Linked DNA regions of Homo sapiens: regions 2 and 3 are each linked to region 1. The links come from fine-mapping of genetic effects on gene expression. A gene starts in region 1. Each other region holds a variant in brackets. All regions are shown on one strand. Distances are between the middles of the regions.

The links. PIP is the estimated chance that this variant, and not a neighbour inherited with it, causes the effect.
Region 2: its variant is fine-mapped to the expression of ZNF286A in whole blood (INTERVAL, PIP above 0.99).
Region 3: its variant is fine-mapped to the expression of ZNF286A in hippocampus (GTEx, PIP 0.95).

The regions. Positions count from the first base shown.
Region 1 is chr17:15,693,588-15,703,942 of GRCh38, forward strand. It overlaps ZNF286A (zinc finger protein 286A), which reads left to right and starts at 6,165. Exons shown (of 6, transcript NM_001130842.2): 1 at 6,165-6,190; 2 at 6,548-6,779; 3 at 7,565-7,653. The coding sequence starts at 6,743. ZNF286A-TBC1D26 (ZNF286A-TBC1D26 readthrough (NMD candidate)) reads left to right here and starts at 6,165. Exons shown (of 23, transcript NR_171000.1): 1 at 6,165-6,190; 2 at 6,461-6,779; 3 at 7,565-7,653. RefSeq lists enhancers at 5,862-6,473, 5,909-5,958, 5,969-6,288.
Region 2 is chr17:15,720,505-15,730,859 of GRCh38, forward strand. The region is part of intron 6 of ZNF286A-TBC1D26 (ZNF286A-TBC1D26 readthrough (NMD candidate)); the gene reads left to right. ZNF286A (zinc finger protein 286A) reads left to right here. Exons shown (of 6, transcript NM_001130842.2): 6 at 1-283. Among named protein-coding and RNA genes, the nearest start is that of TBC1D26, 6.6 kb to the right of the region's middle. The variant TA/T (reference allele first, on the strand shown) is at 5,536.
Region 3 is chr17:15,282,663-15,293,017 of GRCh38, forward strand. LOC124903932 (a long non-coding RNA gene) reads left to right here and starts at 6,601. Exons shown (of 3, transcript XR_007065634.1): 1 at 6,601-6,897. The variant T/C (reference allele first, on the strand shown) is at 5,039.

The DNA of each region.
Region 1 (10,355 bases):
TTCCAATGTATGTTTTGAAAAAAAATAATGCTGCATTTTGTTTTTTTTACTTATTAGTTTTTTTGTTTTTTTTTTTTTGAGACAGAGTCTCGCTCTGTCACCAGGCTGGAGTGCAGTGGCACCATCTCAGCTCACTGCAACCTCCACCTCCCGGGTTCAAGTGATTCTCCTGCCTCAGCTTCCTGAGTAGCTGGGACTACAGGCGCCCACCACCATGCCTGGCTAATTTTTGTATTTTTAGTAGAGACAGGGTTTCACTATGTTGGCCAGGATGGTCTTGATCTCTTGATCTTGTGATCCACCCTCCTCGGCCTCCCAAAGTGCTGGGGTTACAGGTGTGAGCCACCGTGTCTGGCCCTACTTACTAGTTTTTAATCCAAATGGAGATTCTCAGCCTTTTGATAGATAAGTTTGACCCATTTACATTTATCGTGATAAATTATATTATAGGTCTTATTTTGTGTTTTCTTTTCTTTTTTTGAGACAGGGTTGTGTTTTCTCTTTTCCATACTTTCTGTTTCTTCTATTCCTCTTCTCTCAGTTTCCATGGAATAATCACTTCTTTTCATTTTTCTTTTTTTTTTTTTTTCTTGGAGATGGAGTCTCACTCTGTTGCCCAGGCTGGAGTGCAGTGGCATGATCTTGGCTCACTGCAACCTCTGCCTCCCAGGTTCAAGTGATTCTCCTATCTCAGCCTTCCAAGTAGCTGGGATTACAGGCATGCACCACCATGCCTGGCTAGTTTTGCATTTTTAGTAGAGACGGGGTTTCTGCATGTTGGTCAGGCTGGTCTCAAACTCCCAACCTCAGGTGATACACCTGCCTTGGCCTCCCAAAGTGCTGGGATTACAGGCGTGAGCCATGCACCGGCCAGTCACTTTGAATATTTTACATCCTATTTTTATTCTCCTGGTGCTTGTACCTAATTTATTAAAACCCACACCTGTTTCTTCCCCACCTCCCATCCATTTTTTATGGTTGTGAACGTGTATTTTTTTATGCTGATCGGCCCAGGGTACTATATACAGCAAAACTATTTTTTTTCTTTCTTTTCTTTTCTTTTTTTTTTTTTTGGAGACAGAGTCTCACTCTGTTGGCCAGGATGGAGTGCAGTGGCATGATCTCAGCTCACTGCAACCTCCGCCTCCCGGGCTCAAGCAATTCTCCTGCCTCAGCCTCCCGAGTAGCTGGGATTACAGGTGTGTGCCACCACGCCCGGCTAATTTTTGTATTTTTAGTAGAGATGGGGTTTCACCATGTTGGCCAGGCTGGTCTCAAACTCTTGACCTCAGGTAATCCGCCTACCTCGGCCTCCCAAAGTGCTGGGATTACAGGCGTGAGCCACCACACCCAGCCTTTTTTTTTCTTTTGAGATGGAGTCTCGCTCTATCTCCCAGGCTGGAGTGCAGTGGCATGATCTTGGCTCTCTGCAGCCTCCCCCTCCCAGGTTCAAGCGATTCTCCTGCCTCAGCCTCCTGAGTAGCTGCGATTACAGGTGCATGCCACTATGCCCAGATAGTTTTTTTTGTTCTGTTTTTTGTTTGTTTATTATCATTATTATTATTTTGAGACAGAGTCTCACTCTGTCACCCAGGCTGGAGTGCAGTGGCACAATCCGGGCTCACTGCAACCTCTGCCTCCCGGGTTCAAGCAATTCTCCTGCCTCAGCCTCCCGAGTAGCTGGGATTACAGGCATGTGCCACCATGCCTGGCTAATTTTTGTATTTTTAGTAGAGACAGGGTTTTGCCACGTTGGTCAGGCTGATCTTAAACTCCTGACCTTAAGTGATCCACCCACCTCAGCCTCCCAAAGTGCTGGGATTATGTGAGCCACTGCACCTGGCCAATGTTTTCTTTTTTGTATTTTTAGTAGAGATGGAGTTTCACCATATTGGCCAGGCTGGTCTTGAACTCGTGACCTCAAGTGATCCACCCACCTTAACCTCCCAAAATGCTGGGATTATAGGCGTGAGCCACCACACCCGGCCTAAAAACTGAAAATAGAACTACCATATGATTCAGCAATCCCATGACTGAGTGTTTATCCAAAGGAAAGGAAATGAGTATATCACAGGGATACCTGCACTTCCATGTTTATTGCAGCCATATTCACAATAGCAACTTAAGTGTCCATCAATGGATGACTGGATAAAGAAAATGTGATATATATACATAATGCAACACTATTTGGCCATAATAAAAAATGAAATACTATCATTTGCAGCAAGATGGATGTAACTGAAGGTCATCATGTTAAGTGAAATAAGCCAGGCATAAAAAGACAAGTACTGCATGTTCTCAGTCATATGTGGCAGCCAATAAAGTTCATCTTATGGAGGTAGAGAATAGAATGATGATTACCAGAGGCTGAGAAGGGTGTGGAGGGTGATGAAAAGGGGTTGATTAACAGGTACAAACACACAGTTAGATAGAAAGAATAAGTTAGAATCTTTAATAACACAGTTAACAACAATATATCGTATATTTTAAAATCACTAGAAAAGAACATTTCAAATTTCCCCAACACAAAGAAATGATAAATATTGAAGGTGATGAATATCCCAAATGCCCTGACTTGATTATTACATGTATTTTGCATGTATCAAAATATCACATGTACCCCATAAATATGTACAAATATTATTTATCAATATTACATTTTCTTCTTGTAATCAGTCCTGCTATTGACAAATCAGATTTATTTATGTAATTATTATTTGTTGAGAAGCCACAAAATGCCAGGCACTGTTTTTTTTTTCACGTCGATACCTTTTTTTCTTCTCAACAATCAAAATACAAAGTTAAACACAATTGAGCCATTGTTTTGGTTATGCATAATGTGTATGCCTCCAAAAACAGAAGAAAAATAGGAAGAAGTACCCTCACTAAAGGTTCCCTGACTCGTCTTCCGGCAGATCCAACGAAGGGAGACTCAGGAAAATCACACTTAGAAAGCTGCCCAATGAGGTATTTATGCAAAAAGAGTGTTCTGGAATTAAGAACATACTTTTATATTCCTGTATTTCTCAAAGAGATCAGAAAAGTAAATCACACACATTGAATTTTATTATTTTCTAAAAGAGGCCTCTGCCCCTTTAGAAAAATGAAATGAGGGGAGACAGCCCACGGTGGGGGTTTTAATTGGAAGAAGTCCTCGGCCAGAAACAGTCCTGAATGTTTAACCTCTGCCTTTCAGGAGAGAGGTCTGAATTTTATCATCTGGGGGGTGGGATGAAGGTCGGGGACTGAGCTGGAGGTCTTTAGGCTTGGTCAGGTGACAACACAAATCAACGTGTCGCTCAGGGTCCATAGCTGCTGGATGGCTTTTAGGGTGTCAGATGTTTAGGGAGACGGAGGGAACAGAGCACTGCAAAGATACTTTATTCCTATCTACTGGGAAAAATATGCTGGAAGTATTCAGCTTCAGGTCATGAATTCGACCTGCTGTAGAGGTGTAGGGTTTTTTTTTTGTTTTTTTTTTTGAGACGGGGTCTCACTCTGTCCCCAGGCTGGAGTGCAGTGGCGCGATCTCAGCTCACTGCAAGCTCTACCTCCCAGGTTCACGCCACTCTCCTGCCTCAGCCTCCTGAGTAGCTGGGACTACAGGCGCCTGCCACCACACCCGGCTAATATTTTGTATTTTTAGTAGAGACGGGGTTTCACCGTGTTAGCCAGGATGGTCTCGATCTCCTGACCTTGTGATCCGCCCGCCTCAGCCTCCCAAAGTGCTGGGATTACAGGCATGAGCCACTGCACCCGGCTGAGGTTTAGGTTTTTTCAGGTTCTCTCAACAGCAACCCACTGGAAGGTAAGTGTGGGGAATGCACCAGTTAGTTCCCACTGTCCAGGCTGATGGAGATCTGGCACTACCTGGTACTATTCCAGGCACTGTTTTTAACACTGAGGATTTTTTTTTTAATTGTGATTGTTTTCTTTTGTAGGTGATCTATGTTTTGTTTCTGGTAGGCTTTAGAATTTCTTCGTTAGATTTCACCGTAATATGTGGTGTCTTTTCATAATTTTGTTTGACTCTCTATCAATAATTTCAATATGAAGTCTTTAATTTTTTATTTTTCCATAATTCTTGATTATTTCTTAAAATAGTTCCTCCTCTCTGTTTTTCTTTCCTTATGGATTCTCATAAAGTCTAGTCAGCTTCCATACTGCTTAATATTTCTTTCGTATTTTTCAACTTTTTCTCCCTTCCTGGTATCTTCTGGAAGTGTAGAGTTCCCTAGCCTGATATTGTAGCTTCACTAGAATATTGTAGATATTCACTTTTCAATTTTACACATTCTGCTATCCAATCTAGTATTAACCATCATATTTTGACACACAGTTTCGTTGTTTTTATTTTTATGACAAGTTCTTGCTTGATATTTCCTGTCTCCTCCTTTATCATTCTTAGGATAGCTTTTTAAAAGTATGTGTACAGGCCACACACCTCCTAGGACCGACTGTAGCCATTTGTCTTCCTGTGGGTTTCAAATAAACTTTTCAATAGTTGCTCAATCCAACAATTTCCCTCTTCCAGACAATTCCCAGATTGGATTTTGACAAAGAAGATCCTGTTTTATGTTAGAAAGTGGAATTAGTTAAATTTTCCTGCATAACAATATGACCACATACTCAGTGGTCCAAAATAGCACATGTTTATTATCTCATAGTTTCTATGGGTGAGAGTCTGAGCACAGCTTAAGTGAGTCCTTTGCAGCCAGCTATCAAGATGTCAGGCAAGACAGGGTTCTCATGGGAAGACTCTACAAACAATGATTCACTTCCAAGCACACAGAGCTGTCCAAAGGGTTCAGCTCCTTGCAGGTTGTGGGACCAAGGGCCTTCGGTTCTTGCAGGCTATTGGCTGGAGGCCATCCTCAGTTCCTTGTCATATGGGCCTCCCCAACATCACCACCACTTCATCAAAGCCAGCAAGAGAGGAGTCTCCTAGCAAGACACACGTTAGACTTTTATGTCACCTTTATTGCACTGTATTGGTTAGAAGCAAGTCCCAGTCCATACACAAGAGGGGATTGCACAAAGGTGTAACTACCAGGTGGCTGAGATAATGGGAGTTACAAATCCCTTCTGGGAGCTGGAAATCATCTTTCCTTGAAGTTTCTAAAAGCCACTGAACGGTTTGAAGCACTAAAGTAATAGCATATTCTTGTTTTAGAAAGAGCACTAGCCAGAAAGTGTGGAGAACAGATTGGTGGTAGAGAAAACCTTAGTTAGGGAATCCAGTTACCAGGCTGCAACGGCAATCCTAGTGAAATGGTGGTGGCCCCAACTAAGGTAATGCTACTGAGAATAGAGAAAGATGGAAACAATTGAGTTATTTAAGATACAATGAATAGGACTTGGTGATAAATAGATGGTGAGATCAAAGAGTTAAGAATATTCAGGCTCTGGTTTGTGCAAATGAGTGAGTGGGCAGTAATGTCATTCACTGAGAAAAGGAGGGCAGTCTAGACACGAAGCTGGAGGTGGATGGGTTAGTCCTCTAACAGAATTGGAGAGACTGAATAACTCTCCCTTGAAAGAACCACCTTTTATGATATGTTTAAACTAATGCTTATGTCTGCAAAGAACCTATTGCTTAAATTTGTTACAACAGGTTCAATCTTTTCAACTCATTTTAAATACATGAATTTTAGGATTACAAGTAGTCTGTGGATACAGGAACATCTGACTGAGTGTACAAAGAGGGACCTGCTCTTCCTAAAAACATCCTTCGTATGTTTTGAAAGCAAAAGGATGAGTTCTGGGCGCACAAAATATGGATAAAAGCTATGTATTTTAACGTATCTTACACCGGAGTAATTTGGGTTGAACTCAGCAGCCCTAAGCACTGTGCCGCAGGAACTTGTGCAGACAAAGCGCGGGGACGGACCCTGACTCCGGTCCGCGTCTCCGCTGCTCCCTCCCTCCCTTGCTCTGAGGATTAGACACAGGAGATGCTGCCTCATACTCTCGCGAGACGGACGGAGCTCTTCGATCGTCCGATTCTCCCAGCCGCACCACGGGTGCTCCCACCTGCGGAGAACCGGAGTCTGGCGATGCCAAGGCGCTTCTGGGAATTGTAGTTCCGGGCGGGATGAGGGCAGCACGCCTGGCTCCGCTCCTTCTTACGCATGCGCGACTCCGAGCTGGCCAAAGAAGTTCGTCCCCTTTGTGAGGCCCGGGATGGGAGGTGAGTTGCTTGTGGTGATGTCGCTCGTCTCGGCTCGGCCTCGGCGGTGGTTCCCCGGGTCGTTCTGTGCCGAGTCGGGGCTAGAGTGCGCGTTTGTTAAAGGGGCCTCGAGGGCAGACCATGAGCCCTGTCCCTTCTCACTCTGGCCTGATCCTCTCCTCGGGGGACGCGGTTGTGCCACGGGCGGGGTGGTCGCGGGGTTCTGGGCCAGTGCCCCGAGCGCGGCAGAATTTGTCCAAACTCCTGATGCCCCAGCGTCACCTCTTCCAGGTGCCCGGTTCCCCCAGGGACAGCTTCAAGCGGTAGGGACAGACATCTGAGGACCCAGCCTCAGGGATGCTGTCCCCGGGCTTCCAGGCTCCAGCGCCGTAGGACTGAGGCAGACTCCACGGTGAGAAAGAGACCCGATCTAACCCAGGCCTTTCATCAGAGCCCAGGAGGGAAGGCAGGAAGTGGGACCACGAGGCCCGGGGGGCTTCTAACTCGTCTGGCCAGGGAGATCTGAATTGGGGTGAAGAGCAGAATCTCCAGAACAAGGAGGAGGTGGTGATCATGGAGACAGATTTGGCTGAAATGCCTGAGAAAGGAGGTGAGAATTGCGGACGTGTTGAACTTGTAGCGTGGAAGGACGAAATTCCTGCTCCTGAAGGGAAAACGGTTGGCTCAGGGGAGGTGGCTCTTGGCTGGCTGTCTCCATTGTCTTGGGGATGGATGGGCTTTTTAAGTGAGACTGAAGGGCTTGGTATGGGAGCACCGCCCTTTCCATGGCAGCTGGGCACACAGTGGACCCTTCAAAGCTACCCCCAAAATGTGAGTGAAATGTTAACTTCTATGGCAAGAATTCACCTCTTTGGTTGTCAAAAATGTTTTGTTTTACATAGGAGAAAACAGGCGTAGTAGTTAATGACTGACTTCCATTCTACCTGACCAGTTTCATGAAGGTTGTGCTGTGACCTCCTACACCAGAATTCCCCCTGGGGTGGTTGTTAGATTTCTGGATTGTACCCCAGGCTCAACTAATGCTTATTACTTTGAGGTGGGGTCCAGCAATCTACATTATAAATAAGCTTTCAGAGTGAGAACCAACGAGTATAGATTAAACTGGGAAATTTACTGACATATTCTAATTTCTAGATCAGAGGATGCCATCTTACAGAATGTGTTATGATTATAGCAACTGAATTCGAGCCCAGAGTAGCAATATTCCCGCATATCCCGGGAAGAGGGTCCTGGGAGGAGGTCGGTTGTTTTGGGGGTACCTTCAGTCTCAGTGTTTGTAGGCAGCACATATAGTATGTTGAAGTGGTTTTTAGACTTTAAATCTGAGTGGCACGTTAAGCCTAGGTCTCATCATTACTGCTTTCTTGTCGTTAGCTCTGTCTTCCCAGGATTCTCCCCATTTCCAAGAGAAGAGCACAGAAGAGGGAGAAGTGGCTGCTCTGCGCCTCACGGCCAGATCCCAGGTGAGTGAGTGCTGATTATTGGAATTACACCTTGTTTCTTAGAGTACAGATGCACTCCCTTCTTTGTGATGTGGAGTTTCTTTATCCACTAAAGCCCATCTGCAGAGCTGAGTTCTAAATCTAAGAGACTAGTCAGGAGACTAATGGACTCAGAAGAAAATGTTTTCTACTTATAACACTGGATGGATTTCTTCCCTATTTAGTGTTTATTGTCCCTCAACAGATAGGTAAGCAGCATTTCCCTTTCTTAGCCTCCTATGCTCATTTCTGTGCTTGGTAATGTGAGAAACTATTTTAAATATAATGTGGTACATACCTCTTAAAACTTGTTTCTCTAGAGGAAACAGCATGTATGTGACCTTAAGTGGCAATCTAAGAAAGCACTTAAATGCTGAAGTGATTGTAAAAATAATAAATACTCACATAGTTCAAAGAAATACTGGAAAAGGAAAGCCTATGAAGGCGTAATTTAAAGAGTTACAGTTAGAATCCAGCCCTCTGAGATGATGAAAGCTAAGGTATGATCATGTCTGCAACTTACTTTTATATTGTTGGCCCCTCTCTCCCAAAAGGTAAATATGACAAATATTACGAATGTTTGGCTGGGCGTGGTGGCTCATGCCTGTAATTCCAGCACTTTGGGAGGCCAAGGCAGGTAGATGACTAGGTGAGGAGATTGAGACCATCCTTGCTAACACGGTGAAACCCCGTCTCTACTAAAAACACAAAAAATTAGCCAGGCATGGTGGCACGCACCTGTAGTCCCAGCTAGTCTGGAGGCTGGGGCAGGAGAATCACTTGAACCTAGGAGGTGGAGGTTGCAGTAATCCGAGATCGCACCACTGCATTCCAGCCTGGGCAATGAGGGAAACTCTGTCTCAAAAAAAAAAAAAAAGAATTTTTGAATTTAGGCGGTGATTGTACTATATCAGTGATTATTGCATTCATCTTTCAACTTTTGTATGTTTGAAACTTTTATTAAAAGAAGTTAGGGCTGGGCACGGTGGCTCATGCCTGTAATCCCAGCACTTTGAGAGGCTGAGGCGGGCAGATCACCTGAGGTCAGGAGTTCAAGACCAGCCTGACCAACATGGTGAAACCTCGTCTTTACTTAAAATACAAAAATTAGCTGGGCTTGGTGGTGCGCACTTGTAATCCCAGCTACTCCGGAGACTGAGGCATGAGAATCACTTGAACCCAGGAGGCAGAGGTTGCAGTGAGCCCAGATAGGGCTACTGCACTCCAGCCTGGGTGAGAGTGAAACTGTCTCAAAAAAAAAAAAAAAAAGAAGTTGAGGAGGAAAAAAGGAGCTTTCCATGATGTGTGTGGCATACCACAACCCAGAGATTCCTCAATCAGCCTTTCTCTTTGCTTCTGTAATCCAAGGTGTAAAAAGTAGATACTGCACGTTCATAGTGTTTGTAAAAGTCACTTCCTTTATGTACTTGCCTGTCTCCATTGGCTTCTCAACTGTCTTACATTAGTCTTGAAGACTTTATTAGTCAAGAAGCTTTAAGTTGCAGCTGATAAAGTCAATTCAAATGGGTCTAAGTGAAAAGAAGTAACTATTGACTAACAAACTGAAAAATCTAGGTCTGGCTACATATAGGGCTCAAACAAGAATGTTAAAACCTAATTCTTCATTTTACTGACCTTTTCTCTCCATGGGTTTTATGGCCAAACAAGTTTTTCTCCTAGTGTTGGCCTCTAACGAGTTTAGGCTTACATCTTCCTGTGTTGAAGGCCAGAGAAAAAGGGCAGATTCTCTTCTAGTCATTCTTGCAGAAGTGCTGGGATTGACTCTAATGGGGTATTAGGCCCATTCCTGGATGAGATATTGGCCAAATTTAAGTGTAATTCTTTATAGAATATACCTACACACACACGCACATACACATGCGCGTGCACGCACAAACATCCCACCCATGAATCAGAGATGGCGTCAGTACTACCTGAGCTACACAGATTCAAAGTGGCCAGGCATAGTAGCTAGGGGAAAATTAGGGCACTGGTACCAGAAGCGTGAATATATATTTCAATACTTTGATATCAGATTCAACACTGTTAACAGCATCAAGGTGATTGAACCTATTATGGAAAATTTTTAAAACTCTCTTTGTTCTTTGTGCATTTTATTAGATTTTAAAAATGCAATATTGGAGCTTTTTTTCTTGTTAGAATTTGCCTGGGCTATTTTTTACCTTTGATTTGTTAGATTTTTAAAAATATTAAAAGTTTTAGTTCTTCAATGTAATAAAGTGAACAACACAGACATACAGAAATGTAAAGGTAATGCTACTTCCCCCTCAAATTCAGTCCCTGCCTCTCTCTACTATGTATATTTTTTCACATTTTTTGTTGTACTTGCACTACTGTATTCAGACATATGGTATACTATATTTCCTTCCATCTACCTACCAGTACCCAACCCAGCAATAATATTTTGTTTGGATGGCCTATTCTGTATATAGGATGTGGCTTTTTAAAAAAACCTTTTTATAAGGGAAATTTGCTCATTCACATATAATACATGTGTTTCAAACTTTTATTGCCATGTGATTTTTATAATTCTGTTTCCTGTGCTTTATTGTTTCCTCTTTTGTAGTTTTCCTGCTGTTTGTGCAATGGTTTGCATTTTTGTTGTTCTGGCTTTTTCTTCTAATTTTTGGGCACTTAATCTCCACTGAATGTGGATTTAGTTA
Region 2 (10,355 bases), 27 kb after region 1:
CATATCACTTAACCAGTAGCTATCTGGGATGGTTCCAGAGGCTGAAGTTTGCAGTTGAATAACATTTTAAATAGTGTTAAGCGACTTGGGATCTCTGGCCCTTTGCGTTTCAGTATTTGTCCTTTTTATGCCTGATGTTTAACCTGCCACATGTTTGTACTGCAACATGAATCTTGGAAATTTTAATGTTATGCATTTCAAATGTTTTTGGTTATCTGTAAACTAAATGTGCCCTTATTGGCTCACTTGTCAATAAAGATGTTTGTATATGTATTGTCAGAAACTTTTGTAAATTGCTTTTAAATTCTTCCTTTTTTAAAGCATATTTTAAGATGTAATGAAGGACCAACCAAAAAATATCTCCATATCATTCAGGATACCAATCCCATTTCTAGCTGGTCATCTGGCTTCACAACTTCTGGAGAGATGGGATGGGAGATACCGTCAGCAACCCAAGTATCTGCAAGAAGGTTAAGGAGTAGAGGAAGATAGTTTCTAACAAGTAGTACTGAGTCCCCAGGCCAGGTATAGGCACTACTCAGTAGGGCTAATTGGGGTGAAAGGGAGGGAATAACTTCGTATAAAAAGCACAGTTAAAATTAGGCAAAATGGGCCAGGTGCGGTGGTTCAAGCCTGTAATCCCAGCACTTTGGGAGGCTGAGGGAGGCAGATCACCTGAGGTCAGGAGCTCGAGACCAGCCTGACCAACATGGAGAAACCCCATCTCTACTAAAAATACAAAATTAGCCAGGCATGGTGACACATGGCTGTAATCCCAGCTACTCGGGAGGCTGAGTCAGGAGAATCACTTGAACCCGGGAGGCAGAGGTTGCAGTGAGCCAAGATAGTGCCATTGCACTCCAGCCTGGACAACAAGAGCGAAACTCCATCTCAAAAAAAAAAAAAAAAAAAATTAGGTAAAATGTCATAAAAATCTTATTTTGTGTAACTTTTCAATTATATCTGGTTTGGGGGAAGACAATGTAATATCACCCAAAAGTATAAAAGTGATAATGTAAGAATACTAAATATTCAAATTGATTGGCAATTAACTAGATCAATTATCTATTGAAAATTTGTCATAGTTTTTATTTTCTTAGATGTGTTCTCACTTTTAAAAATATGTGTTTATCGGTTGGGCGCGGTGGCTCACGCCTGTAATCCCAGCACTTTGGGAGGCTGAGGCGGGTGGATCATGAGGTCAAGAGATCGAGACCATCCTGGCCAACATGGTGAAACCCTGTCTCTACTAAACATACAAAAATTAGCTGGGCGTGGTGGCTACTAGGGAGGCTGAGGCAGGAGAATCGCTTGAACCCAGGAGATGCAGGTTGCAGTGAGCCGAGATTGAGTCACTGCACTCCAGCCTGATGACAGACCAAGACTCTGTCTCAAAAAAAAAAAATGTGTTTATCAGAAGATGACTCAAGTTGGAAGCCTGCTTTCTTCCCTTCCTTGTGTAATTCTTTCTGGGCCCCAACTAGGCAGTCTTGGGACCCATAGCCATATGAGCTGTCCCTCTCCATAAGTTTCATTGACAAGGTAGAAGGCTATTCCCTGTAGTAATATATATAAAATGTGGCATCTGGTCCTACTGTGTAGTTTCCACTTATAAACCTCAAAAAATTAGATGTTTTTACTGAATTGTTTTTTATTTTTTTCATGATGTAACCTCTGTTTATAAATCCCTTAGATTGAGTGAACTATACAAAAAAGGTGCATGCTTCACCTCCCTCCCACTCCCACCAATTCATGAAACACGTAATCATCATGTCAGCAAAGTTCACATATCTGGGGCAATCCATGGAGTCAAACTAGAGATAAATGCTTTGCTATTAATAGATCGAGGACTGTCCGCCTCCATCTCTGCTCTGGCTTCCTCTCTGTTGGATGTGCTTTTCTTAGTCTCTTGCAGCGACAAATAGCCTACTGGCACTTGGAAGTTATATTACGGTTCTTGGCATTCACAATTCCAAGGAAAGTACCTCTTTCCAAATAGCTCCAGCAAAATCCCTGAGGCTACTTCTCCACTTTGCTTGAGTCGTGCTGATCACTGAACCTTTTATAATACCACCCTGGAAATGGGGTCCTCTCATCGACCAGGCTTGAGTCTGTGTAAAACCCTGGAGGAAGAGAGGGTGGAGTCCATCCCATTGATGCAACTTGCACTGTGGGTGGGGACAGGGTGCTTCCCTCAAATAAATCCAAAGATGCTGTGCAGGTAAAACAAACACTGCTATTGGAAGTTAACTTCAGCATGAATAAGACTATCTGGCCTCCTGCTCCCCATCTATTCCCCCCCACAAGAGCAGTTTTTCAAAGATCAAACAGTGATAACATTGACAGAAGTTTAAAACCTAAGAAAGTTGGGTGCAGTAGCTCATGCCTGTAATCTCAGCACTTTGGGAGGCCAAGGCGGACAGATCACGAGGTCAGGAGATTGAGACCATCCTGGCAACACGGTGAAACCCCGTCTCTACTAAAAATAACAAAAAAATTAGCCAGGCATGGTGGCGGGCGCCTGTAGTCCCAGCTACTCGGGAGGCTGAGGCAGGAGAATGACGTGAACCTGGGAGGCAGAGCTTGCAGTGAGCCAAGATCGTGCCACTGCACTCCAGACTGGGTGACACAGCGAGACTCCATCTCAAAAAAAAAAAAAAAAAAAAAAACTAAGAAAGTATTTCCAACATTGATTTCATAGAGTTTCTGTGAGGGTTATGTGAAATTATATATGTGAAAGGGCTTTGTTGCACATTGCTGAGTTATATTTTGATGATAATTTTCTATTCTTTGAGACCAGGCTCTAGTATACAAAAAGCATGGACCTCTCACCAGGGTGCCATTTCTTAATGCTAACTTGTGCTACCTGTCCTTTGTGGCCTGGCAGGGAATCTTTGCTCATCAGTAGTCACTTAGGGACCCGAGATGGTATAGGGCAGCCACCACCATAAATATTACTTTTGCCATATCAAAAACATAGTTTTATGTATGGTTGATTCAATTCCCAGTCTCGTGACCTATGCATCTCATGTTGTAGTGACTCAAACCTGCTGGGTTATCCAGGACTGTAATTTTTTTTTTTTTTTTTTTTTTGAGACAGAGTCTCGCTCTGTCACCCAGGCTGGAGTGCAGTGGCGCGATCTTGGCTCACTGCAAGCTCCACCTCCCAGGTTCATGCTATTCTCCTGCCTCAGCCTCCCAAGTAACTGTGACTACAGGCGCCCGCCACCACGCCTGGCTGATTTTTTGCATTTTTAGTAGAGATGGGGTTTCACCGTGCTAGCCAGGATGGTCTCGATCTCCTGACTTCGTGATCCGCCCGCCTAAGCCTCCCAAAGTGCTGGGATTACAGGCGTGAGCCACCACGCCCGGCCCAGGACTATAATTTTTAAAAACCCATGGTGAGATCTGGCTTCAGATATGACTGGATTCAGATATTCAGAAGATGTCATCAGCTCATTCTCTTGCTATCTCAGCACCATTTAATTCCATCTGAATTTATAATTAACGCTTTATAATTTATTATAATAACTATCAGAATGAAGGAGAGTAAAATCCTTTATTGGAGTATAAGACATGATTATTTCAAAGAGGAGTTGATCAGTGTTCCCCTGAGAGTAAGAATGCATTATATACAGTGTGGACATCTCCAGGGCCTTCCAAACATAAGTAAGTATACAGTTTCTGAAACATTTGTTTTAGTAACATATCTATACAAAATTAAACTAGGGAAGGTTTCCCTTCTCTTTGGTCTGACACCTCTTCCCATAAACAGAGCAGCTCTTACAATCATTTTGAACTAATTAATAACTATAGGACATACCAAACAAACCCAAGTATTTCTTACATTTTCCTGTTTATGAATGCCATATCATAAGCTCCAAGATAAGGGTCTGTTTTGGCTTTGTTCATATATATATATATATATATATATATATATATATATATATATATATATATAAAATGAAAAGCATAACACAGAACAAAGCACAAAACTGTAGTTCTGATGAGAGACAATTTCTACTATTGGGCAGATTACACAGAAGGTAAAGAATGATCTTTCCCTTTCTCTTGTTGAACAAACTATCATTTAAGCAAAGATAACCGAAGTTTAATCTTTTTAAATATAATATTTTGAATTAAAGATTTATAGATTTTAATGAACTCATCAAAATCAAGCCAACTTTTGTCAAAATTTTAATACATTTTATTTCTTCTTTTCAGAATTCGCAGCTATTATAAAGCACAAGTAAAGTTCACTTTCCCCCAAACCTTCCAAAACTTACAGCATCCTCTCCAGTTTTATGCTTTAACTATCTTTTGCATTCTGCAACAACCACACATTTCACTCTAAGAGAAAAATAGTCCTGTTTTCTTTTGATAAACAAAAACATAACATTTTCTTTCTACATGTTTAGGGATCCCCAAGACCACCCCCAGGTTCAATGATTCACTAGAAGGATTCCCAGGACTCAGCATGTTGTCATTTTCTTGGCTGTGGTTTATTATAGTAAAAGGACACACAGCAAAACCAGTAAAGAGAAAAGGCTCATGGGGCGGCAAGGTCTGGAGGAAACAAGGAACAAGCTTCCCCGAGTCCCCTCCCAGCGAAGTCACACAAGACTTGCTCATTTCCCACAGCAAGGAGTTGTGACAGCATGTGTGAAATGTGATCTATCAGGGAAGCTCAGTAGAGATTCAAATCCTAAGGTTTGTACTGGGTGCTAGTCACATAGGCAGTCTCTGTCTAGCATGTACCAAAACTCCAGACTTCCAGAAGGAAAGCAGGTGTTCAGCATAAGCTTCATTGTTTTTACAGACAGTTTAGGAGCAGTGATCCACTTTAATTCTGGAATTAGCGGGAACGATCCCAAAGTTATCCTTCCCAGATGCCCGCCTGTGGCCAACCTCGTAGGCAAGTCTTTCTAAAGATAGCAGGCTCGGACTTGCTATGTTAACTTTTCTGCACAGTTTCGTTGCCGCTATTGTTTTCATACAGCCTCCCAGCCACTCATATTAATCACAAATTTGCTAACCAAAGAAATTAACTGGGATGTAGATAATCAGAACTCTCTACATTAGACAGGCAACTTAGCAGATGAGCAAAACTCACAAACACACATAAAATGACCTCCTGCAGCCACACATCCCTTTTATACCTTCTTAGCACACACATTTCCTAGCTCTGTCTACTGAAACGGGCTAAAAGCAATGACATCTCAGTTGCAATGAGCCCAGATCTTGGTTTCTGATACCGTTCTCTGCTAAAAGGAACTAAGGCTCCTCAGAAAAATGGCTGATTGCAGGTCTGAGGGAAGGAAACTCCAAGAAGATCCTGGAACATCTTATTCCAGAAAAAAAAAAAAGTAGCACTCAAAAAAATGATGAGGGTAGGTCACAAAGACACAGGAAGTAGCCCTCACTGACTAAATCCGGAACAATTTGAGCAGCAAAACAAGAAAATGATGAATTGTAAACCATTGAAGAAGTAGTAGTCCATGAGTTCACATTGATAATAAGTAAATAAATGAGCGA[TA/T]ACAGAGGACACTTGCTTACCGCAGAATATCCTATGCCAATGGGTAAATGCGAAGGGAATGTTGGAGCTGGAAAACTATCATTTTGTAGCCATAACAGTAAAGACTGATTCAAGCAAGAATCAATGGATGCTAAATCTAAGGGGAAATTTTGATGAGGAACAGGATATTTGCATAGAATTGAAGTATCTTTTCCAGAGATTGCTTGTTATGATTAGCAATTGCAAGGCAAAAAATAATTATATAGTGGAAGAACTGGCAAAAACTTTGATTACATGATCAAAATTAATATGAGTAAGCAGCACATGGCCATTCTGTGCCTCAGATGTGATACCATGAGAAGGACACAGCATAATGTGTGTACTATTCTGGCTGGGAATGCATAATGGGAATCTAATCATGAGGAAATATTTGACAAACTCCAAAATGAGGACTATTAAAAGGACTGCATTCTTCAAAAATATTAATGTCACATAAGACAAGGAAAAGCTGAATAACTTCCAAATTAAAAGAGACTAAAGCATCATGACAACCAAATACAATACAGGATCTTTGACTAGGTCTTGTGTGAGAGAAAATCTCCTAAAGACATTATTGGTTCAATTTTTCAAAACTGGAATACAAGCAACAGAATAGATAAAAGTAATGTATTGATGTTAAATTTACTGCAGTTGATAACTGTATCATGGTTGTGTAAAGTATTAATAATATCCTCATTATTGAGAAATGCATATTGAAGTATTTAGAGGTAAAGAAGAGTAATGTATGAAATTGAAATGATTCAAGAAAAATTTGTGTATAGAAAGAGCAAATGATAAAACAAGCAGGATTAAACGTTAACTGTGTGTCAGTCTAAGAGGAACCTGGCTATCCTTTGTAATTCTATTGCAGTCTTTGTGTAAATTTCAGGTTACTTCCAAATTTAGAAAAAAATTAAGTGAACACATATATTGACCCAAAGTTAGACCCATTCTGTAACATGAAAATACAAGGCAAAAATATATATAATACAACTATGTTAAAAGACCCTTTTTTCTATCTTACCTAAAACTTAACATCTCCAATGATTATCCATTAATAAGCTCTTTTTATTTTATTTTATTTATTTTTTTTTTTTTGAGACGGAGTCTTGCTCTGTAGTCCAGGCTGGAGTGCAGTGGCACCATCTCGGCTCAGTGCAACCTCCAACTCCTGGGTTCAAGCGATTCTCCTGCCCCAGCCTCCCTAGTAGCTGCGATTACAGGCGCCTGCCACCACGCCCGGCTGATTTTTTGTATTTTTAGCAGAGACAGAGTTTCACCATGTTAGCCAGGATGGTCTCAATCTCCTGCCCTCGTGATCCGCCGGCCTCGGCCTCCCAAAGTGCTAGGATTATAGGCGTGAGCCACCGTGCCCGGCCTAATAAGCTCTTTGTTTTTTCCTTTTCTTTCTTTCTTTCTTTTTTTTTTTTTTTTTGAGACTGAGTCTGGCTCTGTCGCCCAGGCTGGAGTGCGATCTCCGCTCACTGCAAGCTCCGCCTCCCGGGCTCACGTCATTCTCCTGTCTCAGCCTCCTCTCCTGCCTCCTGTCTCAGCCTGTAGCTGGGTCTACAGGCGCCCGCCACCATGCCCGGCTAATTTTTTTTTGTAGTTTTTAGTAGAGATGGAGTTTCACCGTGTTTGCCACGATGGTCTCGATCTGACCTCGTGATCAGCCCGCCTCGGCCTCCCAAAATGCTGGGATTACAGGCGTGAGCCACCACGCCCAGCCAAGCTCTTTCTTAAAGAGAAGATATTTCCACCTTTAACTGACAAAATCCCAAAAATTTATGTCAAGAATTTATTTTTAAAAACTTCTCGAAGATCATTTAGAAAGATTGATAACCACATTGGAAAAAGTATAAAAAATTGCATAGACCCCTGAAAATATGATTATATACATTTTCTTTTTTTGTTGTTTTTTTGAGACGGAGTTTCGCTCTTGAAGCACAGGCTGGAGTGCAATGGCGCAATCTCGGCTCACTGCAACCTGCCTACCGGGTTCAAGCGATTCTCCTGCCTCAGCCTCCTGGGTAGCTGGGATTACAGGCGTACGCACCACCATGCGAGTTTCGCTCTTGTCCCCCGCGCTGGAGTGCAGTGGCACGTTCTTGGCTCACTGCAACATCTGCCTCCCGGTTTCCAGCAATTCTCCCACCTCAACCTCCCGAGTAGCTGGGATTACAGGCGCCTGCCACCATGGCGAGCTAATTTTTTTTTGTATTTTTAATAGAGACGGGGTTTCATCATGTTAGCCAGGCTGGTCTCGAACTCCGGACCTCAAGAGATCCGCCCACCTCGGCCTCCCAAAGTACTGGGATTACAAGCATGAGCCACCGTGCCCAGCCTGATTATATACATTTTCAATAAACATTTATGAAAGTGGTATCAGGCCTTTTAATAATCAGAAGACCAAAATAAATGAAAACGAAATAACATTATCCACTAACCAGAATATGTAAAAGGAAGACTGACAAAATCAGGTGTTGGAAAGGACATCTAATTAGAACTCTCAAACTTGTGGTTGGGTTATATATTAGTCAAAAAAATCTTTGGAATTAAAATTTAATTGATAAATTGTATGTATTTATGCTATACCACATTTTACATACACACACACACACACACATTGTAGAATAGCTAAATCTGTGTATATATATGTATAGCAACAGACAGACATTGTAGAATGGCTAAATCAAGCTACCTAGCATATCAGTTACCTCAGATACTTATCTTTTTTTTTTGTGGTGAGAACATTTAAAATCTGCTGTCTCAAAAATTTCAAGTATTACCACATTGTTATTAACTGTAGTCAACATGTTGTACAATAGAGCTCTTGAGCTTTTCCTCCTAGCTGACATTTTTAGTGACATGCGTTGCATTTGAACATATGCAGTTACCATGACCAAGCTATTTTATTTGTAGGGCTGTACTTAACTAAAATATCTATACATGTGTACCAAAAGAAATTAACAAGAATGTTCATAGTGGCTTTATTGCTAGTAGTCCCAAAATGGAAACAAACCAATGTCCATCAACAGTAGAATTGATAGATGTGCCATATTCATGCAGAGCACCACCGAGCAGGGAAAAGAAATGAACTGCTTGGGCCGGGCACGGTGGCTCACGCCTGTAATCCCAGCACTTTGGGAGGCTGAGGCGGATGGATCACTAGGTCAGGAGATTGAGACCATCCTGGCTAACACAGTGAAACCTCATCTCTGCTACAAATACAAAAAAATTACCTGGGCATGGTGGCAAGCGCCTGTAAGTCCCAGCTACTCGGGAGGCTGAGGCAGGAGAATGGTGTGAACCTGGGAGGCAGAGCTTGCAGTGAGCCGAGATCGCATCACTGCACTCCAGCCTGGCCGACAGAGCGAAACTCCATCTCAAAAAAAAAAAAAAAAAATGAACTGCTTCATGAAACCACTTGAAGGAGTGTCACAAATGTAATGCTGGGCCAAAGAAGCCACACACAAAACCATTCCTACTGAATGGCCCTCCATGCTTCCATTTATGAAACAGACAACACTAATTGGGGCTGCTAAAAACCAGGTGACTCTTTGCTTTGACAAGACAGGTGGGCAGTGGTTAGGGAGCAGACCTTCAGGAGAGGGATTTCCAGATTGTTATTTTTATTTCATTTTCTTGGACTGTGTGGTAGCTCCAAGCATGTGTCCTCTTTGTGATAAATCACTGAGTAGTAGAATAATAGGATTCCTGTGTATATTATACTTTAATAAACATATTTGAATTCCTTTTTCCATTAGGACAAATAATATAAATCATAATAAATCTTTGCAATTTTAGTATTATTTCTAGTTGATGAAAAATAAGCCACCTGAAGGATTCCAAACTTGCGTATTTCAATATAGAACTTACATGTTCTAATATATATTTCTAGAGATCCAAAACTGTCTGATTAATGTCATTTGAGTGTAAAAAAGCACAGTTATGTTTACAATTTGCTCTCTAATCTTTTACTTGAAGTTAAGCTAATTATCCACATCCATCAATAAAACTGCTTTCACAGAAGAGTCCAATCCATGGCATAAATGACAGGAACTTTAGAAAAGTCGTTTCTTCTTCATTATTTATGTAAAAACATTAAATTTCTTAGAAACACAGGCCAGCAAACTCCCAGTTTAGTGTTGCTTTCATTGCTTTCTGTAGTCTTGTTACCAGAGAAGATTTTTATGTTCCAGAATTGCACAGAGGGAAAACCTGACTATTATGGTTACCACTGTGGCCATCAAGACAAGGCACTTGATTCCTAGGATCCCAGCAATGACCCTCCCTGGAGGTGATGGGAATTAAGAGACCTGCTATGGAAATTGTGGGGGCTGAGTAAACAGTATCTACAAATCTTTCTCTGTGTCTGATACTTGAAGTCCACAGGCAGTAAACAAGGGAAGACTGCAGAACAGGCAGGGAGGGATTCCATGAGCAAGAGCTGGAACCCCATAAAAATAAAGTGAAACCCATGTTCATGAAGCTAAACACAGGCCAGTAACCCAGCAGTCAGAGAAACTAAAGGAAAAATCCAAGGAAAGGCAGAGCAATTACAGGCTTAGCTGCTGTTTCATGGCAGTGAGATAAGTCAGCAGATCAGCAACAAGTGTGGTGTGTGTGTGTGTGTGTGTGTGTGTGCGCGCGCTCCCACGCGCACGTGACCACTTGCTACGAAATTCGTTTTATTCCAGTGTGTGAGTGTGCACCTGTGTGCGTGTGTGCACTCCTGTTGACCCAGTTTCTGCTCTGTGGCCAGGTCCATGACCCTAGACGACCCCAGGTGTGCTCTCGA
Region 3 (10,355 bases), 410 kb before region 1:
CTGGGAGCCATGGCACCTGGCCTCATTTTTATAAAATTATTTTATTTTCTGTGTGTTTCACTTGGGATAATTTTCATTGCTATGTCTTCTAGTTCACTTACCTTTTCTTCTGCAAGGTCTAATCTGTCATTAATCTCATCCCATGTATTTTTCATCTCAGATGTTGTCATTTTTATTTCTATAGGTTTGATTTCTGGTTACATACATTTCACATCTCTACCTAACTTTTTCAACTTGAATTCAGTTATAATAACCACTTTAATGTGCTTGTCTGCTAATTCTGACATCTGTGTAAGCTATGGGTTTGTTTCACTTGATTGATTTTCTTCTCATTGTGGGTCATTTTTCCTATTTCTTGGCACATCTGGTTATATTGATCAGATGCTAGACAGTGTGAATTTCACCTTGTTGGGTGCTGGATATTTTTGTCTTCCTACAAATATTTTTGAGCTTTGTTTTATGGTACAGTTAAATTACTTGGAAACAGTTTGATCCTTTCTGATTTTGCTTTTGAGATTTGTTAGGCAGGTCTAGAGCTAATTATTGCCCACTACTGAATCAAGACCTTTCTGACTAGCCTACTTAATTATGAGTTTTTCCAGTTTGGATGGTGGAAACAGGTATTACTTCCACCCTTGTGTGAACACAAAGTATTGTTCCCTCAAATTCTTTTGACTGGTCCTTTCCCTGGGTCTCACATTGTTTTTGTTCTTACACAAGTGGACCAATCAGTACTCTATTGAGTTTTCAAGGTCTCTCTCTCTCTCTCTCTCCCCTCTTTGGTACTTTAGTCCTATGACCCCTAGCATCCTTAGACTGCCCAAACTCAGTTCTTTCTCCTCAACTCAGGGAATTCACTGGGCTCTTCCTGGATTTCTCCTCCTTGTGTCATGAACTGGAAACTCAGTGGTGTGAGCTGAGGCTATTATAGGATTCATCTCATTCATTTCTTGTCTCTCAGAGATCACTGTTCTTTGTTGTTCAATGTCCAGTGTCTTGAAAACCGTTGTTCTGTACATTTTGTCTGATATTTGTTTGTTTGTTTTGCTGTTGTTTCTGGCCAGAGAGTCAGTCCAGTCCTTATCACTCCATCTTGGCCAGAAACACAAGTCCCTTTGGTTTTTCAACCTGTATTTTCCAAACAGGTCAGGCAGTTTATTAACACTTGACCTTAGTCAGAGGGTTAGCACGTGACTTATCTTCCAAGAATCTGATCCAAGACCATCTCCTTTATGAATCTTCTCCTGACATATTTCACCTACCATTGCACAAGGTACATGGAATAAAGCTTATCCTATTCATGAGGGCTACATTCTGAGCACTTCATGATTTTCCATGGTGGTGTCTAATACAGCATTATTCTTCCTCTCAAAATGCTTCTGTTTTCTGGATAAGAGCAATTGCTTCCTTAGAAGAATTTAATTTTTCCTCATTTCCATCATCAATAGCATCTGGCTTTTGTATCAAGATTGTTTCTCCCAGACAATACTGAGAAAGTATTTTATCACAAGAAGGCAGCTGTGCTGGTGGCTACCATGGAGAACCATGCATCTCTGAGACACGGGCAACGAGAAGTCAGCTGGTCTCTTTTTGTTTGGTGCCTTGTTTCTGCTTATTATTCTCAGCTCATCAGTTCATTCTGTGCCTCAGCAGAATTAAAATTACTGCACGTCACAGACCTGCATGACTGCTCACGGACTGCTGACATCATGAATACCAAATCGAGTTGTTATGGATCTAATTATACTTTATTGAATTTATTTCTTCATTTATTTCTTTACTGGACTCCTCCTTCTAGGCTATATATATGGAGCCCATCGAAGGCTGGGACTTGTCTTACAATTTTTTATTCCTCTGCCTAATTACAATCTCTGGCATAAAACAGGTATTTGCTGAATGAATGAATAAAAGCACAATAAGAAAAACGTACAAATCTCCAAACCTCTATGTATTACTAGAATGCCTGTACTTTGATGACCCTGTGTTTATATTTGTCACATTTTGGCTGTTAAAACATCATTTTCAGCTGTTTGACAACTCACTTGTTTATGTTGCTTCAAACGTTTTAAATTTCTAACCTAATGGCTCATCTAGTGTCATTCTGCCACTTAGACTTCAAGACTAGAAAACAAGAAAGAGTGCAGCATAGTAGTATCATAGAATGTCTCAAGAATCCCTAGTGCAGGGATAAACACCTCTTGGAAGAGCTATCAGGACATTATCATTTTACCACCATCACCCCTGAGGCTTCCTGAATGCTTATTATGTGCAGGGACTTCCAGAGCTTTACTGTGGCAAAGTCAATCCGTTTTTGCTTTTCAAACTGATAAAATACTTAGAGGCCATGCATGCCAAGACACATTTCTATTATCACACTTGGCCCTCCACCATATCAATGGGTTCCACATCCACAGATTAAACCAACTAGAGATTAAAATGTTCAGGAAGAAATAAAATAAAATAAACCAATACAACAATAAGTAATACAAATAAAAATATAGGATAACAACTATTTACATAGCATTTACATTTCACTGGGTATTTTGAGTCATCTAAAGGTGATTTAAAGTGTACTGGAGGATGTGTATAGGTTGTATGTGAATACTATACCCTTTTATATAAGGGACTTGAGCATCTTCAGATTTTGGTATACACAGGAGGTCCTAGAATCAATCCCTGCAGATACTGAGGCATGACTTTTTTTCTGTTTTAAACATCAGGAAAATGAGGATCCCAGTACAAAGAAACTTTATTAGCAAAGAAGACTGGAATTGGACCCTCCTGTGTAAGCACAGTGTGGTTCCAGCAGCTCAGTATGAAACTTTAACTTTCTCACTGGTTCACTTTTATCTCTGAAGGATAAACCCTCCAAGGTGTTTGGTTACTAGAGCAGTGGATCTGATAACTCTTCACTGGCCGCTGTCTGGGACAGGATCAGGATTTAATGTGAACTATTTGAAGGCTTCAGATGAAGGGCCATGCAGCCGAACATTTAGTCATGTTCAAAACATCAAACATCTGAGGGACTGAACTATGTTTATCCAGACCTGGCAATTCCTGCATCCAAAACTATTTTCCTGGAGCATCTTGGAGGATTAGTCTTTGCCAGAAAGCATTCCTATAATTTTTCTCACCATCGCTACTCTCTACGTGCAGATGATGGGATGGCACCTGCCTGTTTGGCTGCACGCAGGGGCCGGAGCACAGGGACATCAAAACACAGTTCTCACCCAAATGATTACAGATACTTCGGCTCAGCACAGCCCTCCCAGCATGCACATGGGGACACTATGGCCATTTGAAGTCCCTGGATGTACAGACCGGTTTCTGGAGAATTCTGTGGTTGTGACACCTGGGTTCTATGCCTCCTTTCTTGGTCACAAATTCCAGGCACAGGCCACTTGTGGTTGTGCATGCCAGCTCTGGTCTCAGCACATGTGAGCATAAGATTCCATAGCAAAATACCCACGGCCATACTGTAGGGCTTCCCCCTTGTAGGCATAGAGGGGTAGGGGGACCCAAAGGCTTCCATCCCTGGACAGACCCTTTTATGCCTGAGATGGGTTGTTAGTTTTATCTTAGTTTGTGAGTTTGGTTCCCTGTTGCTGTCTCTCAACTTTTACAAAAACCTATTTTATTTTATTCTGTTTTATTTTATTTTATTTTATTTTATTTTATTTTATTTTATTTTTTAGAGACAGGGTCTCACTCTGTCACCCAGGCTGAAGTGCAATGGCATGATCATAGCTCATTGCAGCCTCAAACTCTTGGGCTCAAATGATCCTCCTTCTTCAGCATCCCAAATAGCCGGGACTACAGGTGCGTACCAACACTTCAGGCTAATTTTTAAATTTTTGGTAGAGACAGAATCTCGCTATGTTGCCCAAGCTGGTCTCAAACTCCTAGGCTCAAGCCACCTTGGCCTCCCAAAGTGCTGAGATAATAGGCATGAGCCACTGTGTCTGACCCAAAAGCCTATTTTAAATGTCTTCCCACAACCATGCTATAAGACATCAAAAGGGTCATTTTTTATACACCCTGTATGAGTTTGCTAGGGCTGACATAACGAAGTACCACAAATTGGGTGGCACAAACAACAGAAATTTGTTTTCTCACAATTCCGGAGGCTAGAGTTCAAGATCAAGGAGTCAGCAGGGCTGGTTTCCTCTGGGCCTCTCTCCCTGGCCTGCAGATGGTCGTCTCCTCCCTGTGCCTTCATGTGGCCTTCCCGCTGCATGTGTCTGTCCTAGCTCCTGGTCTTATAAGGACAATCATCATACTGGATTAGGTCCCACCCATATGACCTCAGTTTCCTTTAATTGCCTCTTTAAAAGTCCTATCTCCAAATACAGTCACATTCCAAGGTACTGAGGGTTAGGACTTCAACATATGAATTTTGTGGGACACAATTCAACTCAACACTCTGCTACACAGAAAGTGTGGTGGGACCTTAACAATTAATAGAGGATCTCCAAAGGAAGGAAAATTTCAAAGAAAGTCTGGCTTCCCCTCCCCAAAAATAGATCATCCTTCCAGGGCAGCTTGGAGTTCCTGGTTTCCTCTTTATTCATAAGAATTCTATTTCTCTGCAGTCTGTCTCTTAGCCAAACGCAATTTCTGCCAAACCATATCTCACCCATACCTAACTCTCCTGCCCCCCTGAGCCCTCCCTTTTTCCATAGATCCCACCCAGAACAGCTCAAAGTGTCTTCCCAAAGCACAGCTCCATCCTTTAATGCCCCTTCATGGACTGGTCATTCAAGTTTGAATTACTCCACCATATGCCCCAGTATTCCTTCCCAGCCATGTCCTCCACAACTTTCCTGGATCTTTTTAATTGGGTTGTTTCTGTTTTTTGTTGTTGTTGAGTTGTAGGAGTTCTCTATAGATTCTTGATATTAACCTCTGATCAGATATATGACTTGTAGATATTTTCTCCCACTCCCTGGGTTGCTTTTCAGTCTGTCATGCCCCTTAATGCACAAGAATTGCTAATTTCCATGTCGTCCAACTTATCCAGTTTTTGTTGACTGTGGAG[T/C]TGCTGCCCCTTGGATGTAAGCCCAGCACCACGTCCAAGCTGTTCACTGCTGCCACTGTCTTCTGAGTCACTAACACTAGTGTCTACTAGAAGAAATACTTTTCTCTGTCTTTTCATATTTTGGCCCATAGAAGAGTAGATTTTGCTCTCTCTCCCATCTAGAGGAATGGTGAAGAGAACATATGCAGCCTTTCCCTCTCTTTCCTCCTCCAGGGTCCTCTCTCGGGCAGCAGAAGGGACTGTGCAACTCATCAAAACTTGACATTCATTGGTTCTACAGGCAAACAGGGCCATGGAGTCAGAGCCAGTGCTCATGTGCCACCCACCTTTTCTGGTGTTTACAGTGGCTTCCTGAAGCAGGCCAGTTATCGCAATCCTGAGTGATAAAGTGAAAGTGTTTCTCTGTTGCTTAATGAGAGTTTTGTATATATTCCAGCAGCAGAAAGAGAGAATGGCCTCCAAACCTCTATTGGTGCCATAGAAATAGATAGAAAGTTAAAAGGGAAGGAAGGTCAATTAAATGATTGAGGTAGCTCTTGCACAAAGTGGGAAAATGTAGTTAGGGGTATTGAGAGGGACATTGATTGCACAGAGAAAAAAATCTGGTTCTCCGGAGATTTCAAGTTTTCACCTTTTCAGATTATACCTCATTTTCTGAGAATCAAAAAGGTAAGGTCCTATGCATGATCTATCTCTAGGGATGTGGAGTTTTGCTTATATTTTTTCACAATACAGGATCTCTGGGACACATAACTACTTCCCCTCTAAATACTTTACTCAGAGATATTCTAAATTTAATTTCCTGGTATATGCCTTCCTGACCCACTTGCCCAGTGGGAAAACATTTTCTGTTGAACATTGTAGAAAAAAATTGATGTATTTTAAAATCAACTTTTTGTCAAATATATGCATTCTCTACAATAAAGTCTCCCTTAATTCATTTAGCACAGTTTTATTTTCTTTGCAAATAATTTCTTTTTAAAAAAAAGTTTCTGTATTTTGTTTTCACTATTCTGTTGGGTTAAATTCTCAGTTTACAAAAAAGAATCACTGATTCAAAACTGGTCTGTTAAAGAATAAAACTGTAATGAAAATAGTAATATAAATATTGCTGCTCAAAATAACATCATAAATATAAAAAAGAGAGATGACTCCAGTCTAGTTCAAATATAGACTATAAATCTGCATATTCTAGAACAAGGACAGGCAAATATGTTTCCTACAAATAACGTCAACTGCAGAGTTAAATTTTTAAATTGGATTTCCCTGGACTAAGGAATCTGCTTCTACTCTGCAATGATTTATCTGTTTAGAAACATTGTTGAACAGAGATGTGAAGATTTTGCATCATTTTTCAACAGTGGCCTTTTTTAATATGCCCACTGAGATTTTTAAAATCCTAAAACAAACACAAAATATTGCTTTTCTAGTTTTAAACTTAATATTTCTATCTAAAGAGGCACACAGTCAACACTCAAATCCTTCTCCAAAGCACACACAGGTTTAGGTCAAAATAATCCCCCAAAGTTTGTAAAACCAGTTTCATTAGTTTTTGAACATTTCTGCTCAGAAAGGAAACAGCATACGCTTGTGGAAATCATTTGTGCTGTTCACTACGTTTCTCTAGCTCATCAAGAGATTGCATCTCTCTGCTGCCCATAAAGTGACACATGACCCTATAACCGGCTTCAGGAAATGAGAGTGGAAACACAGCTTGAAGAGTTGGTCTGCCATGTACCATGCTGTCTCTCCCCTTGCCGCCATGACAACTTGGCACTGTTCCAGTAATGGCGGCTCCGCCAGCCTGGGTCCCAGAGTGTGGAAGGCAAGCAGCAGAGCCTTCAGGAGATCTGTGCTAGGTATGAACTTGTCTGAGTAAGATTTGGAGGTCATTTGTTACTGCAGCATAACTTAGTCCACTCTGAGTGATACGTAGTGACTGACAGAACTCTTTAACCATTAGACATAAGTTGGATGAGGCAGAGTATTAATAGCATATAAAGTGCGTATGCACAGCATACAATGAGCAACGTCACATACTTGTGTTTGCTTTTGGTTTATGGTTGGATTAAACCACTGATATAGCAAATTTGGAACTCACTCTTGGACTAAGAGTGATATATATTCAAGGAAAAAAATGGCTGGTGGTGTTTTCCTGTTGGAAACTTACGTTACAAAAGACGAGGTGTTTGTTTTAGTTAACAATTATGGTGTGAGTCATGGTAAGGACTGGAAAATGTGTGTTGAAATCAGGATACATGGAAACTAGCTACGTAGGCACTGAGGAAAGGAGATGCCGTGACAATAAAAGAAGTTGCTTCTCGGCCGGGCGCAGTGGCTCATGCCTGTAATCCCAGCACTTTGGGAGGTCAAGGCGTGCATATCACGAGGTCAGGAGATCGAGACCATCGTGGCTAACAAGGTGAAACCCTGTCTCTACTAAAAATACAAAAAATTAGCCTGGCGTGGTGGCACGTACCTGTAATCCCAGTTACTTGGGAGGCTGAGGCAGGAGAATCACTTGAACCCGGGAGGTGAAGGTTGCAGTGAGCCGAGATCATGCCACTGCACTCCAGCCTGATGACAGAACGAGACTCCATCTCAAAAAAAAAAAAGTTGTTTTTCAATGTCAGTCTTCTCACTACTTGGTATTCAACATTATACATATTAATTGTGATGCAATAATGAAGGAAGTACATTCAGATTGGAAATTAAAACGAAGCAATGCCTATTTGGTGTATATATACCTTCTGAGTGCATAGTGTGAAGGTATTGGCAGAATATAAAATTTATTTTCCACACAGACTGTTAGGATAAGGGGTACCCAAATGAGGATTTCAAAGTAGGAATGAGTGGTTGTGAGGTTTTTGTTGTTGTTGTTTGTTTATTTACTGTAGAGATGGGGATCTCACTTTGTTGCTCAGGCTGGTCTTGAGCTCCTGGGCTCAAGTGATCCACTCACCTTGGCCTCCCAAAGTGCTGGTATTACCGGCGTGAGCTGCCACAGCCAGCTATGAGTGTGTGCGTGTGTTTTTTAAGGCATTATTACTACGTGGCACTGATAATATCAGTTAAGGCCCTTTAAATAATATCAAGTGATTTGTCCATGTGGCACGTGGAATATCTTAGCAATGTATTTGGCAATTCATGAGGATTGTTAGAGATGGACGCTGGATGCAGATGACTTAATTGCTAAGAATTTGACTCCTTTCAGATATTTGATGATTTTCTTCAATTACTAGAGGAAGAGAGTAGTGGCATGTTGTTGGGTACACAATACTTCAAAACTGTAACTGAAGGATGCCATGGAATTTGAAAAATTCCAAAGCCCAATTCAAATAAAAAGTGTGTTAGGAACCATTCACTGCTACCTTCCAGCTTTTGAGTTTAATACACTCTTACTGCACTTCTAAATGTTCAGATGGATGCAGGGAGTACAGAACAGTTTCTCACCATATTCTATTTAGTTCTTCGTCAGGTGATTTCTGAAAGAGCCACCTAAAATTTCCTTCGGTCTGAATGGCCTACAATTGTGAGCTAGGATTCTATGTTTTTGATATGCTTAGATTAACATTAAATTTACTTTTTAGTACTTTCATGACTTTTTAAAGTCCATGATCATCTGAAATTTATATTAGCATATCAAATGAAATTACACTCTAATTTTTTTTCCAAAAAGCCAGTTATTAGGTCATCCATCCTTTTCTTCATCGTTATGAACCGTGGATTTTATTGGATCCACACACACATGTGCGCCTATTTTTGGACTTTCTATTTCATTGATCTGTCTGTCTATCCCAGTCATAATTACTATAGTTTAAAAATACTGCTTCTGGAATAATAATCAAGTGAAAATGGATGAAAAGTTTTTTTAAAGATAATGAGAGAAATCTTACCTTAAAAATAACTTCAAAGTTATTATGAAGTATTTCATCTATCACTAGAAGATAATATATGCTGTATTATACATGCTTTACTTTCTTGCCCTCTGCAAGCCTGCACACATGAACAGCTTTCTCTGTGTCAAAGCAACTCACATTGACTTCATTGTCTCTCTGATTGCTGCTTTTCTCTCCTTCCTTTCACTGCCGATCCGCCCCTGCTGCCATGGAACGTGCTCCTCTTTCCCTTAAATTCCTGTGTTATCTGGGTACACTGCACTCCCCAAAGAGAACTATTAAAAGTTATCAGTGACCTCCTTCTTGTCCTTCAACTCTATTTCTGATCTTCAGCCTCCCGCACCTCCCTTATATAATGTTGCCCCTCAGCACACCCACCTTGGTACCCTCTCTCCACTAGCTACCCTGGACCTCCTCTGACTTTCCTGCTGGGAACTTCTCTGCCTTCTTGCTTTTCCTGCATGTGTGCTGCCTGTACACACTTCACTTCAAGTGTGACTGGGGGCGCCTTGCACACATTCCTTAACCTTGCTCCCCGCCTCCTGTGGTTTGGATATGGTTTGTTTGGTCTGGCCAAGTCTCCTGCTGAAATTTGATCCCCATTGTTGGAGGTGGGCCTGGTGAGAGGTGTTTGGGTCATAGGGACGGATCCCTCATGAATGGCTTGGTGCCATTCTCTCAGGAGTGGGTAACGTGTCATTCTTAGTTCCCAAGAGAATTGCTTGTTGAAAAGAGCCTGGCATCTTCTTTTCTCTCTCTTGCTCCATCTCTCATCATGGGACACACCGGTTCCCCTTCCTCTTCTGCCATGAGTGGAAGCTTCCTGAAGCCCTCACCAGAAGCAGATACTGGCACCGTGCTTCTTACAGCCTTTAGAACTGTGAGCTACATAAATCTCTTTCTTTATCAATTACCCAGTCTCAGACAACACAAACAGACTAAGACACCCCCAAACCCTGAGAGTATGAGTTGGTTTAGTTCACGTGGCTTGTGTTCATCAAGGACCAGCTGAACGTTTTCACAGCGTGGTCTACTGTCAGCTAACACCTCCTGGTCTAAAAGGAACTGCCCATCTTCCTGTGGTCTCCCAGAACAGCTCCTCTCCTTGACACTCCGATGGCACCATTGTCCCCAGCACCTCCAAGACATCTTCTGGATGTGCGTGAAAGGAGCCCCTAATTTACAAACCCTTACCACGTGATTTCTCCTCCTTCCACTCTGCTGCCTCCGCTAGCTTATTCTTCCTACTTCCTAAGTAGGTTCCATGGAGGCTTCTATTAAAAGCTTTTCTGGCTTCCTGATCCCAACAGGATTAATCAAAATTTCTTACCTTGGCACCCAAGAACCCTGGTGTCAGTGCACAGACGTTGTTTGCAGCATCTGTACTCACTGCCACCCTGATTGATACTGAAGTCAAC